2 linked regions of the Homo sapiens genome follow. The protein of the gene in region 2 purifies or fractionates together with the protein of the main gene of each other region. This does not show direct contact. Each region holds a gene or a part of one and is shown on either strand. Other genes may lie near its edges. The genes, in order: HEPHL1 and SGIP1.

The links.
Region 1: the proteins of SGIP1 (region 2) and HEPHL1 purify together in Homo sapiens (affinity purification with mass spectrometry; one large-scale study listed by BioGRID and IntAct). This does not show direct contact.

The regions. Positions count from the first base shown.
Region 1 is NC_000011.10:94,024,177-94,028,010, forward strand, and holds part of HEPHL1 (ferroxidase HEPHL1 precursor), read left to right. Parts: intron 1-3,834. UniProt on the Homo sapiens protein: Is a copper-binding glycoprotein with ferroxidase activity. It oxidizes Fe(2+) to Fe(3+) without releasing radical oxygen species. May be involved in the regulation of intracellular iron content.
Region 2 is NC_000001.11:66,733,090-66,736,923, reverse strand, and holds part of SGIP1 (SH3-containing GRB2-like protein 3-interacting protein 1), read right to left. Parts: intron 3,177-3,834; coding exon 3,044-3,176; intron 1-3,043.

The sequences.
Region 1 (3,834 bases), on a different chromosome or scaffold from region 2:
GAGCCAGGTGCTCAGAATTCCACCATGAATGGAAAGAACCTGAAATAGAAATCCAGAGACCTAACTTCTAATGCTTGCTCTGCCCAACTTGCTGTGTAATCTTGAACATGTCATATAATCTCTCTGAATATCACTTTCCTTAATTTGTGTAAGAAGGGAGTTGAAATGTAATCCCTAGAGTCACTTGAGAAGTGTAATGCCAAAGCATTAGAAATAATTTTGAAACTGAATGAAAAATATCTTTCCTGACTTGCCAGTTCTAGAAAGATTTTTGCAATGGTGAAAGAAAGGAGAGAGATGATTTGCAAATGTTCAGTCCTAGAAATTAGAGTTGGAGAAGACCTGGGACTGATCGTGGGCATATGTGACAACTTTTGAAGTAGTCTTTATTTTTCTTTCTCCATTTTTTCCCCTGTCCTTTAAGAATTATCTCCAATTCCTCACTTCATACATGAAGCTTTCCCCCATGACCCTGGCTTGTACTGATCTGTTTCCTTCCTAACCACTCATGGAGCTTGGGGTCTTTATCATGAACTTGGACACTGCATTTTCTTCCCTCTGCATTGCCCTCTAATTGCTTGATGTACATTAGTCATGTCTGCAACTGCAGTAAAACACCCTGATGATAGATAAGAAGTTTTGGCGTATATTCAATAATCCCCCTTCCCTGCACGGAACTTTGTCATTGACAATATCCTATGGAGGATCCAGTACAGGGCAGGCATTCAAAATCATTGAAGTAAAAGCTAATCACCTTATCAACTGAGTTGTTCTGGTTGTTTTATCTTTGAATAAGGGGAATGGGCAAAAATCTGGGGAACAAGATGGTGGGTGCCAAAGTTTCAGTAATGTGAAAACATTTGGAAACCAAAGTTAGGCACATCCTTATGCACAAGGACGAGATCGAAAATGAATTGAAATCATTTTGCTGAGACTCTATAGCCCTCAGATGGTGCAAATTAACTTTTATGCTTGGTACCTATGCTTGATTATAGGGTTCAAAAATATAATTGAGTCTATAATCACTAATGTTTCCTAGAAAGTATAGGATTTAGGAGTTAGATTCTATTTAGAAATACTTTCTCCAGATAAATATACTTCTCCTCCTCCTTGGAGTAAATGGGGACACTGGGCTCCTTTGAGTTGCCTGGGGATGGTGTCAGTATTTTGATCTATTTATACCAGTCCTGCTCAGGCTCATAAAGTCCTTAATTAAGGTGTGTGTTTGGTGGTAAAGCCTGATCCTTAATGGAAGTAGGGTGGGGTCATCTTATTTAAAGCCACAGTTCTCACCATAGACCTCATTAGGCCATCAACACACATTCAGCCTTTTTCTTCCCAGTGAAATGCAGGGTTTTCATGGACGCTAACTCATGGGTGGAACTGCGCTTGAACATAAGTGAGGCTAGCCACTGCTCAAACCCCATTTTTGTAGAGTCTGTTAGTTGACCCAGCCACATCACTGCATCAGCCCAGTGTATGGCAAGGGGCTTTGAGTATTCTAAGAAGCAGGCCCTAGGATAGGTGTGAGAGAGAACTCACACATCTATCTGAAAGAAGGACCAACTGAGGGGAAGCAGGGAGGAGACAGAGGTTTTTGTGAGCTTTGAAATAAAGAAAAGAATATCATCTGGTAAGTGCATGGTCTAAACAAATGGTAACTTTCAAATCTCAACTTCTGTCTTATCAGCACCAAAAATATTTTGTTTGGACTGATGCCATATGAATCTCTGGGAACTGCTGTTCTACCCTATATCAGTAAGTGATTGTTTCTGGCTGCCACTAGAGACTGGAGTATAATGTCTTTAACAAATTAGGATTTTGTATTCATTTGTAGAAGAATCCAGAAGTGGGCAGTCCAAGGCTGGTGGGATAGATGGTATAACAAGATATCAGGGGCTTTCTGTATTTCTGATCCACCATCCTTAGCCTATGTGCTTTAAACCCTTTGTGGTTTCCCTCCTCAAGCACATTCATGGTCACAAGATTGCTGTTGGATCTCCAGCCATCGTGTCTACATTCCAGGAAGAAAGAGAGAAAGGCAAAAGGTAGAAGCAGAACAATTTTTGCTGCATCAGCCTTTCAAAGGGTTCTCATTGAAACCCTACCCAACCAATTTTACTTAAATCTCATTGGATACTCATAGCCACAAAGAGGACTTGAAAAAATATAACGTTTCAGCTGTGTACTTTTCTGCCTGAATAAAGATAGAATTTACCTCTGACACTAAGAAAGAAGGGGAGCATGAATATTGCAAGGCAGCTGGCAGTCCCTGCTCCCCTCCCCTACCTCAGTTCTCTCCTGTTTTCCATGATTCACAGGCATCCTCTTAGTCCCCATCTTGCTTTTCCCACCTCCATATGATGGACCCCCAAGGCCTGGTTAGCAGGATCTGAAAGATAACTCATTGACAGTATAATAAGTTAGCTAAGTGTCACTGAGTATTTACTATGCTCCAGGCATTGCTTTAAAAGGTTAGCACACCATGAAGTGGGGTGACCAATCTTCTGTCTCTGGGAGGGAGATCAGGTGGCATCGGGAGGATTTCTCCAGCCAAGTGTAGCCCAGCCTTGGTCTTAGGGAGATGCCAAGGCAGTCCAGTTTGCTGGTAAAGTATGGGGCTCTGGCATCAACTGTCACATTTAGAATTCTTGCCCCACTTTATGGGCAAGTAATTCAATCTCTCTTTGCCTCAGTTTTCTCATCAGTAAAATAGGGATAGTGACAGTACTTGCTTTGAGGGTGTATCAGTTTTCTGTGGCTGCTGTAACAAGTTACAAACTAGGTGGCTTCAAACAACAGCAATTTATTCTCCCCCAGTTTTGGAGGCCAGATGTCTGAACTGCATGTGTTGTCAGGGCCACAATGCCTCTGGAGGTTCTAAGGGAGGGGCCATTCCTTGACTCTTCCAGGTTCTGGTATCTGCCAGCATTCCTTGGCTGTGGCTGCATCACTCTGATCTCTGCCTCCATTTTCATATCGTCGTCTTCTCTCTGTGTGTCTAGCCTATCTTTGCCTCTTACTTATAAGGATGCTTTTGATGGTGTTTAGGGCCCACCCAGCTAATCCAGGATGATCTCCCCATCTCAAGATCCTTAACTTAATCACATCTGCAAAGACCCATTTTTCCAATAAGTTTCTGTGGATGAGGACTGCGGAGTTATCTTTGGGACTTAGGATCTGCACATACTCAGACACAGTGCCTGCCACTTGAGAGCACTTGATCAGCTCTCGTGGTAGCTCTGCCGTCTCACGGGGTTCTTTGGAGAGCAGGAGCCCTGGGGGAAAGACCTTGGCTGGTCACATTTTCCTCTTTTCTAACAAAGCTTTACGCTTTACCAGAAATAATCATAACTGTCATTGATTCAGCACCACTCTCCCAGTTGCTGTGTGTGTGGCTCTACACCTCTTCTCATTGAATCCTTATGATAGCTCTACCATGGTCACTGCTTTACAGCAGAGGAAACTGGTTCAGAGAGGTTAAGTCTCTTCCCCATTTCACAACCAGCAAGTGAGAGAGTTGGGATTCAAGCTCATTTTCATTCCCCCTCATCATGCCATTTGTTTTGAACACACCTTGTATATGAAGGGCTTCTGTGGAAATGAAGAGTGAAAAGGAAGGACCCAAGACATAGGTGGTGCCAGGGACCCAGAGTGAAAGAATGTATATAGAAGCACATCCAGATGGTATTAAAAATTATTAATCTAATAGGGAGGGTGCAGCTTCACCAAACTGAATGTGCAATCTCCGTCTCCACCCTTCCTTTTTCCAAGTGACATTTGTCTCAATCTCATCTTTTTTTCTCCTTGGTGAAGAACGTTCCTTCTCAAGCT
Region 2 (3,834 bases):
AAATTATATTCTTTTGCATTTCTGGAAAATACACCATTTTATAGATATTTCACTTTAAATGGTTTTCTTACAACAATTTAAATAAATGTTTTCCAAAGCAGAGGATGCATAGACTCCCTTGAGAAACTTATACAAAGTACAGATACCTGGGTGGCATTCTAAACCAATTAAATAAAATTTAAAAAGTATATTTAATATATATATCTGCTAGGTCCTAACACCCCCCAAAATACATATATGTATATTTAATAATGATCTCTACCTATATTTACATATAATACGCAATATATTATATTCACATATAATACGCAATATATTATATTCACATATAATACGCAATATATTATATTCACATATAATACGCAATATATTATATTCACATATAATACGCAATATATTATATTCACATATAATACGCAATATATTATATTCACATATAATACGCAATATATTATATTCACATATAATACGCAATATATTATATTCACATATAATACGCAATATATTATATTCACATATAATATATTCACATATATTATATATTATATTCACATATATCATATTATATTCACATATAATATATCGTATTATATTCACATATATCATATTTATATATTTGCATATTTTATATAATATTTTAAACTATTTGTATAAATATTTATATTTAAAATATTTGTATAAATATTTATATTTAAAATATTTGTATAAATATTTATATTTAAAATATTTGTATAAATATTTATATTTATGAATATAATGTGTTATTTTATATGTTATAGATTGTATAGGTTTTATATGTATCTAGGTTGTATATGTAAATATTATAAATAAATATTTATATTATTTAAATATGTATACACATATATTTCTTTTTAGCATCAATTCAGAACCAGCATTTGATTGAGAAATACAGTCAAGTTTGAGATGTCCTGATTTTTATTAAAGTACAACTTCCTTCATTTGAAGAAAAATAATCTGAACATATTTAATAAAAAATTATAATGCATTAAAAACGTGGTAAATGAAATGAGCCAGGCACAGAAAGACCAATACCACACGATCTCACTCTTTTTTTTTTTTTTTTTTTTTTTTTTTTTGAGACGGAGTCTCGCTCTGTCGCCCAGGCCGGACTGCGGACTGCAGTGGCGCAATCTCAGCTCACTGCAAGCTCCGCCTCCCGGGTTCACGCCATTCTCCCGCCTCAGCCTCCCGAGTAGCTGGGACTACAGGCGCCCGCCACCGCGCCCGGCTAATTTTTTGTATTTTTAGTAGAGACGGGGTTTCACCTTGTTAGCCAGGATGGTCTCGATCTCCTGACCTCATGATCCACCCGCCTCGGCCTCCCAAAGTGCTGGGATTACAGGCGTGAGCCACCGCGCCCGGCCCACACGATCTCACTCTTATGTGGAATATTTAAAAGTTGATCTTGGCTGGGCACAGTGGCACTTTGGGAGGCCAAGGAACGGGGATCATCTGAGGCTGGGAGTTCAAGACCAGCCTGGCCAACATGGTGAAACCCCGTCTCTATCGAAAATACAAAAATTAGCCAGGATGATGGTGCATGCCTGTAATCCCAGCTACTTGGGAGGCTGAGGCAGGAGGATCGCTTGAACCCAGGATGTGGATGTTGCTATTAGCCGAGATCGTGCCACTGCACTCCAGCTTGGGCAACAGAGGGAGACTTCATCTCAAAAAACTAAATAAAATAAAATAAAATAAAATAAAATAACATAAAAATAAAAGTTGATCTTATAGAATTAGAGAGTAGAATGGTGGTTACCAGAGGCTGAGGTAGTGGTGGTGGGGTGGGGTGGGGGTTTGTTTAGAGAGATGTTGGTCAAAAGACACAAAATTTCAGTTAGATGAGAGGAATAAATTCAAGAGATTGATTGCATAAGGTGGTGACTGTAGGTAATAACCATATACTGTATTCCTGAAAAATGCTAAAGTGAATGGAAAGTGTTCTCATCACAAAAATAACTATGTGAGGTAATACGTATGTTAGTTTAGTCATTCCATAACGTACATATATTCAAAATATCATGTTGTACCTAATACAGACATACAATTGTACCTGTCAATTTAAAAAATAAAAAAGTTTAAAAAAATCTAGGGAGTCAGCTGGTGTGGTGGCTCATGCCTGTAATCCCAGCACTTTAGGAGGCTGATGCGGGCGGATCACCTGAGGTCAGGAGTTCCAGACCAGCATAGCCAACAGGGTGAAATCCCGTCTCTATTAAAAATACAAAAAATTAGCAGGGCTTGGTGGTGCATGCCTGTATTCCTAGCTACTCAGGAGGCTGAGGCAGGAGAATCGCTTGAACACAGGAGGTGGACATTGCAGTGAGCCAAGATTGTGCCACTGCACTCCAGCCTGGGTGATAGGGTGAGACTCTGTCTCAAAAAAAAAAAAAAAAACCAAAAAAATCTAGGCAGTCAAGTGGCTGGGAACCAATGAGAGACTCAGGCACTATCAGGATCCTGGTATGAATTAGGCTTATTTAGTATATCAATAATAATTTGAGATAAGGGCAATTCTAGATACAAAAAGAAAGTTCTCATATATTGTAAGTATCAAACATTCCTTTATTATTGAACTATTTCTTAGTGTTAGATTTTATTAGAATTCTTTCATAGGACTATCTTACTAGAAAAACAAAAGCAGATTGTGTACCTTGAATCATTTAAAATAAGAGGTTTTAGTATAGTAATGTTCTTAACAAAATTATAATCATCTTGTTTATCAATATAAACTTATAATCTTAATTAGTATAATGTTTTGCAACTTCATTTTTTTGTGGCACATTTCTCTAATTTTGTGATAAAATATTTTACTTGTAAGCTTAAACTAATAAGAATATGTATGAATATTTTTGTCAGTAGTCCCCAAGTTATCTTTTAAAGTTTCCATTTAAAAAAATGAGTTATAGCTTTTAAATACTGTTAAAAGAAGTGTTACTTTAGTTACTTTTATTCAATAGTAGGTACTTTAGAAAACAAATATGTCATGTGGAAGAGATACCGATCATGTAAATAGGCTTACCTGATATTTGAGCATGTCAACGTTATAATATGTAGCCTGGGGTTTTTGTTCAGACACTTTCTTTAGGTGAGTCATCAAATTTGGCATGTTTACCCAGAATTCCTTGGTATTGGCATCATTTTGTGTATTATCACTGTTCATTTGGGAAGAAAAATGATTGAGTAGCATCTTAAAACAAATATAAACCCTACACGAAGCATCTTAGCAAATTGTCGTCTGATATGTACAGCCATTTTTTGACAATTTGTAGAGATTATTATGAATCTATTAACAGTAGTGTGGTTTTCATACAAATACAGTTCTGAATGCTATGGTGTTGGTAGATTAATATCCACGAGGAGGAGCTACTGTGTTGCTATCAATCTCAGTGAGTGCTCAGTAATATTAACTAATTGCGATGATAATTGGGAGCTTTAAAGAGTGAATTATTTATTAACTCAAACTTAATATCCCTTTCTATGAAACCAGCTTTGTCTAAATTAGTCAGTTAAGGCAATTAAGGAACTGAATACGTTTATTTACTTTTGAATTACTTTGACCAGTAGTTTCTCAGAAATTATCCAGTGAAATATTTGGCCAAATGTAAACATGGTCTTTATCACCAACTAAGCAGAAAAGAGTGATACTAAAATTACCATGCTGCCTTTTCAGCATTCATAATATTTCATCCATGAGCATTTAAATCATCAAAGATTTCACTTCACTTATAAGATGATCCTGGAGTTTAAATGATAATTTTGGTAGTTATAATACAGAAGAAGAGCAGAGTCTCTATAAGCTAAGAAGTTTTA